Regions from separate parts of the Homo sapiens genome. Here region 2 is reported to be linked to region 1. Evidence: microRNA targets listed by miRTarBase, many of them from high-throughput screens and not tested one by one. Region 1 holds a microRNA gene; the other region holds the end of a gene's coding sequence.
What was found. The annotated mature microRNA hsa-miR-330-3p reads GCAAAGCACACGGCCUGCAGAGA and lies in region 1 at 2,067-2,089, opposite strand. An mRNA with a match to its seed (bases 2 to 7 or 8) in the 3' UTR can be bound and repressed. Matches are read on the target gene's strand: a 7mer-m8 pairs with bases 2 to 8, a 7mer-A1 pairs with bases 2 to 7 and ends in A, and an 8mer does both.

Region 1 (3,251 bases):
ATATCTGAATGATTGTCAATATACATATATCCTGACCCCATGAAACTGCTCTGACCTGCAGTCACTGCAAAGGGGAGCAATCTGAGGTCCTCACTTTTGCAGTCTCAGCCACCTCTCATCAGATGCTTATCAAGCCCTACTGGCAGGACATTTGGGACAGATTCCAGGGGATATTTCCAGCTGCCTCGAGAAGGCTCTGGGCACCCAGAAGGCCAGGCCATTTCACCAACCACCCTGGCTCCTCCAAAGAGGAAACCAAGGCCCAGAGAGAAGCAGACAAGGACCGGGTTCCTGGGGTGTGGACTCCAAGCTCAATAGGATTTTAGGAAAAAGTTTGGGTCCCAGAATCAGGATTGTTGTCTCCTACCTATAACCTCAGTTTCCTTATCTGGAAAGGAGGTATAATAATTTCCAAACTGTAGGCCTCAGAGCTCTTGGAGGCCACTAGTTGTAAAAAAATAAATTCATACCTGGAATAACTTACAACAGTGTCTGTCAGATAGTAAGTGCTTGAGTTATTATTTTGGATTTTTTTTTTTTTTTTTTTTTTTTTGAGAAAGGAGTCTCGCTCTGTCGCCCAGGCTGGAGTGCAATAGCACAATCATGGCTCACTGCAACCTCGACCTCCCAGGCTCAAGTGATGCTCCCACCTCAGCCTCCAGAGTAGCTGGGAACCACAGGAGCATGCCACCATGGCTGGCTATTTTTTTTTTCTTTTTCTTTTCTTTTTTTTTTTTTTTTTTTTTTTTTTGAGACGGAGTTTCACTCTTGTGGCCCAGGCCGGAAAGCAGTGGGGCAATCTCGGCTCACTGCAGCCTCTGCCTCCTGGGTTCAAGCGATTCTCCTGTCTCAGTCTCCCGAGTAGCTAGGTTTACAGGCACATGCCACCACACTCGGCTAATTTTTGTATTTTTAGTAGAGACAGGATTTCATCATATTGGTCAGGCTGGTCTCAAACTCCTGACCTCAGGTGATCTGCCCACCTCGGCCTCCCAAAGTGCTCAGATTACAGGCATGAGCCACCGCGCCCGGCCTGCTATTTTATTTCCTGTAAAGACGAGGTCTTGCTATGTTGCTCAGGCTGGTTTCAAACTCCTGGGTTCAAGTGATCCACCCACCTCGGCCTCCCAATGTGCTGAGTTAGTGTTTTATCAGTCCCTGTGCATGGGGCACATACTATGAGCTCAGTACCTTTACACATTATTTCACAGGTCTATGGACCTGAGATCATAAAATTCATTTTTCAGAGTCAAGACGACTTTTCCAGGGTCACACGGCCAGGTACGGGCTGGACTGGGGTTTGAACCCATCTCTGTCAGACTCCAGAGCCCGGGCTTCCAGCCATTCCCAACTCTTTTTGCTCAAATGCACCAATCCCACTCTGGCCACATAGCCCTTGAACGTGCTGTGCTTGTTTTGTGTGTTGCCCAGGCAGGTCTCAAACTCTTGGCCTCAAACGATCCTCCCAAAGTGCTGAGATTACAGGCCTGAGCTGCCTTGACCGCCTTTCTATTTCCTCCTGGGGGGATGGGAGCACCAAGGAGATTCCAGCAAAAGGATACACCCACTCCAGCTTGAGCCGGCAAGAAGGCAGCTCCGAGCGTGTGTCCAGGCTGTAGGTGGGTGCCAGCTCGTCTGGGATCATCATGGGCACAGGGCGGCCCCTCAGGAACATTTTCACGGAGCCATCCTCTGCCAGGACACCCCCAGAGGTCAGGCACTGACACCAGCCCCATCCCTATTCCCTCTCCTCTTCCAGCTTTATTTATTTATTTTTTTAAAGGCAGGGAAACTGAGGCCAGAGAGGCAAAGACCCAGTAGCCAAGACTCCTGACCTCTGGCTCCAGCCTGTCACCCCAACAAGCAAGCTTCCACCGAGCCCTTCCCCATCTCCCCACTCACCCACACTGAAGATAACTTCTTTGGTTTTGCTGTCAGGAAAGGACAAAGAAAAAAAAAGGGTCTTAGTATTCAGTTCAGAAAAGGGGAGAAACCATTCCTCCACCCCCACCGCTCCCCGGAGGTCTCCGATGAAAACGGGGCCGAGTAAGGGGCAGAGCGCTGCCTCTCTGCAGGCCGTGTGCTTTGCTCGGTTGATCTTGCAGAGCCTAAGACACAGGCCCAGAGAGGCAGTGATCGCCAAAGATCACACAGCACGAAGTGGCAGGGACGCGATCCTGGAAGAAGGGAGTCACCAAGGACCCTTCCCTCCTAATCAGCAAGGTGCTCCCCAGCGCCCCCCACCCGCAGTTCCCCCAGCACACCAAACGTCAAGCAGAGGGAGAAACGGGGAGAGTTTAAGGGAAGGGGCGTGTCCCCACGCCGGTCTGGGTCCCAGGGGTTGGGTGAAACCTGAGATCTAAGCCCCGGGAGCGCGGAGAGGAGATGGGGGGTGGTCTGCGAAAGGGTCTCACCCAGCTCCAAAGCTACTCATGGCGGCGGGTGGCGGAGCTTCGGGGCCGGGGGTGGAGCCGGGACCGGCTCTGCCGCTTCCGGCCCTGGGAGGCGCCCGGGCCGCCGCGCCCCTGCCCCGCCCTCCACAGCCACCCCTGGAGCCGGAGGGTCCCACCGGGTCACACATCCCGGGCTGTGGACTCCCGATCCCAGGTTCTTTCGGGGTGGGTGGGGGAGAGTGGTTGAGAACATGGACTCGGGAGCGCGCCTGCTTGAGTTAAAACCCCAGTTCTGCTAATTCCTAGCAGTGTACACAGGTCGTCCAACCTCTGCCTCGGTTTCCTCATTTAAAAAATGGGGATAATAAGAGTACCCGGCCGGGCGCGGTGGCTCATGCCTGTAATCCCAGCACTTTGGGAGGCCGAGGCGGGCAGATCACCTGAGGTCAGGAGTTCAAGACCAGCCTGGCCAACGTGGTGAAACCCCGTCTCTACTAAAAATACAAAACTTAGCCTGGCGTGGTGGCTGGCGCCTGTAATCCCAGCTACTTGGGAGGCTGAGGCAGGAAAATCATTCGAACTCGGGAGGCAGAGGTTACAGTGAGCTGAGATTGTGTCATTGCACTCCAGCCTGGGCAACGAGAACAAGACTCCGTCTCAAAATAAATAAATAAATAAGAGTACTCACACCTCCCGGGGGTAGTTGCGAGGGTGAAATTGGTTAATTATTGGGAAGTGCCTGGAGTATACACAACGCTGTATTTGTGTTTGCTATGTTTGAGCAGAGTTGAAATGTGCAGCTTTTGACCTTGGTCTTGCCCTTGCGTGGCCTCCTAGCGCTGACCACGCCCACTGCAC
Region 2 (3,000 bases), not on the chromosome of region 1:
TAGTCGGGTCAGAGGCAGAGGGTTCTGCCCTCCACTCCGCATAACCTCCTCACCCTGCTCCCACCTCCCTAGAGTCTATGGGGCTCCACTGATCTAGACCATCTAGTTCTTTTTTTGAGACGAGTCTCACTGTGTCAGCCAGGCTGGAGTGCAGTGGCAGAATCTCGGCTCACTGCAACCTCCGCCTCCCGGGCTCAAGCAATTTTCCTGCCTCAGCCTCCCGAGTAGCTGGGATTACAGGTGTGTGCCACCACGCCCGGCTAATTTTTGTATTTCGTATTTTTAGTAGAATACTAAAACAACATGGTTTCACCATGTTGGCCAGGCTGGTCTTGAACTCCTGACCTCAGGTAATCCCCCAACCTCGGCCTCCCAAAGTGCTGGGATTACAGACGTGAGCCACCACGCCCAGCCTAGACCATCTGGTTCTTGACACAGTATAGAAGAGGAAACAGGCTCAGAGAAGCAGTCTGGTACAGTGGGAAGAACACAGTCCCGAAGCTCTCCAGAGATTTGTGTACATAGTGTTTGAGGGTTCTGGAAGAGGAGGCTGAGGACCTGAGCACACTCTAGAAGAGAGGTGACCTGTTAGTTCCTCCTTCATGTAGTTTCAAACAAGTATTCCTGGTCTGTGGTCAGCGCTCCTCAAATGTTGGATTTGAGGACCTGCGCTCTTCCCGAGTGATTGTACTGTTTTCAACACCAGCTTCAAGCTGGCAGAAGGAAAAAGGGAGTGAAGACACACCCCTTCTTGAACCCCCCAACAGTCTAGATCTCAGTGGAGGGCTGTACTAGGGCCAGCTAAGTTGCTTGCCTCCACCATGTTCTCTCAGCTTTGAGGCAGAGATGATAGATGTAGAGCAGTGCACTGTGGTGACCCTTGGCATCCAGATACAAGACAAGGACATGGAGTGATGACCACTGTTTGTAAGTGTTGGTGTCATGGTGTCCCCCTCCAAAAATGTTGAAGTCCTTCTAGTGCCTTAGAATTTGACCTTAGGCTGGGTGCTATGGTTCATCCCTGTAATCCCAGCACTTTGGGAGGCCAAAGTGGATAAATTGCTTGAGCCCAGGAGTTTGCCCAGCCTGGGTGACATGGCAAAGCCCCGTCTCTACTAAAAATACAAAGATTAGCCAAATGTGGTGGCACGTGCCTGTAGTCCCAGCTACCTGAGAGGCTGAGGTGGAAGGATTGCCTGACCCAAGGAAGTTGAGGCTGCAGTGAGCTGAGATTGCACCACTGCACTCCAGCCTCAGTGATAAAGCGAGACCCTGTTTGAGAAAAAAAACAGAAAACGAAGATTTGGCCACAAAGACAGACATACCTAGAAGGCAATGTGCAAACAGCCACCTGATGGGGGCAGGATTGGGGTGATGCGTCTGCCAGCTAAGGGATGCCTGAGGCTACCAGAAGCCAGAAGCAGGTGGAACAGACCCTTCCCCAGCTCCTTCAGAGGGAGCATGGCTCTGCCACAGCTTGATTTCAGATTTCTGGCCTCAAGAACTATGAGACAATAAATTTCTGTTCTAAGCCAGCTAGTTCATGTACCTTCTTACAGAAGCCCTAGGAAGCTAATATTTACTGGCAATTACTCAAATCTTTTTAAACATCATGCAGGTCATGAACGTCCTGTTTGCAAACTCTGCTGAAGGGGAAGAAGGTGTGATCACTGGTTGTTTATCCAAAATCCAAGATGAGCCCAGTTGAAGGAGGAAGCGAAATACACAGGGCAGTGGACCCTCCACATCCAGAAGGTCCCAGCCAACCCTAAGGAGGGGAGTCTCATGGGTCTTCAGGGCTCTTACCCAGGCTTAGGAGGAAGCTACCACCAGGAACCTCTGGTCTCGCTTTTCCCTCCCACTACAAGCCACTTCCCCTCTGGGAACCTTGGTGTCCTTGGTTATATGGTGAGAATAACAGAATTTACCTCACAGACTTGTTAAAGGATCGAGGTTACAAAAGCATTCTGCGAGAGGCTGTCTTTCCTCCTGGAGGTGGAGGCAACAGACATGGAGAGCTTGGGGCTCCCACTTGGCTGGGAAATGGGGGAACATTCTCCCTTCTCTCAAGGTCATGAAGCTGGGAAAGTTCTAAGCACAAACCGAGCCCTGACACCAGTTGTGGCTTCCAGAGAAGTGAGAATGATAATAAATAAGTGTAAAAAGAGTCAACAACACACCCTTTAAGCCAAGAAAAAAAATACATCAGGAGGGACAGTCACAATTGAGTAGACTGAGAGGAGGCGTGAGGGGCTGGACCAGAGGGCCAGGAGGGAGCGAGGCGTGATGGGGTGAGGGCCCCCCTCCCAGCGCCTGGAGATGGGGAGGAGTGGAATAGGCTGTGGGTAGCAGCTGCTGCGAGTCTCCACCCCGACCAAAGCAGCTGCTCCTCCTGTGCCCAGGCCCAGCCCATGCTCTGTGGCCATGCACCTAGCAGGCACCTAGCGGGACAGTGGCGTCTGCTTCAGGGACATGAGCACCGAGCGCAGGCGGGACACATCTTTGCACTGCTTGCTGCTCTTGGGGTTGAAGTCACATAGCTGGGCCACCTTCTCCCACTCTGTGCCTGGGGTCTCCTCCTTGGATTCCTTCACGAAAGCCTCCTCGGATGCCCTGCGGGTGGAGATAGGACGGGCTTTTATAGCAGTCTGCTTTCCCCCAGCCTTGCCCTTGAGCAAGGCTGCTTTGCCCAGCCTACTCTGGGGCACTGTGTCCTCCCCAGCCTTGTGCCCCCCTGACTTCAGAGGAGGGCAGCCTTGGCGCAGGAGGAAGCCTAGCTTGGTCCTGCCTCAGGACCTTGGCACTTGCTATCACCTCTTCCTGGAACACGCTTCTCCCAGACCTGTTCCTGGCTTGCTGCTTCTTGTCATTCAGGTCTCAGTGCGGGCCTCACCTCCTCAGAAAGTCTTCCCAGCCTAGGCACCCTCTGTTCATTACTTCCCCATCGGGAGTTCCCAACCTGAGGTTCCTGACACCTAAAGACCCTTGGAGGTCCTAGGA

Region 2: miRTarBase lists CLTB as a target of hsa-miR-330-3p. Seed matches in the 3' UTR shown: 7mer-m8 at 2,376-2,382.

The regions. Positions count from the first base shown.
Region 1 is chr19:45,636,943-45,640,193 of GRCh38, forward strand. MIR330 (microRNA 330) reads right to left here and starts at 2,145; the gene lies at 2,052-2,145. It overlaps EML2 (EMAP like 2), which reads right to left and starts at 2,455. Exons shown (of 19, transcript NM_012155.4): 1 at 2,415-2,455; 2 at 1,903-1,931; 3 at 1,563-1,692. The coding sequence starts at 2,434. RefSeq lists enhancers at 1,281-2,132, 1,369-1,663, 2,133-2,984 and silencers at 1,369-1,663, 2,360-2,639, 2,660-2,749.
Region 2 is chr5:176,390,333-176,393,332 of GRCh38, forward strand. CLTB (clathrin light chain B) reads right to left here. Exons shown (of 6, transcript NM_007097.5): 6 at 2,169-2,613. The coding sequence ends at 2,442. It also overlaps a transcript of ARL10 not described here. Among named protein-coding and RNA genes, the nearest start is that of HIGD2A, 3.1 kb to the left of the region's middle.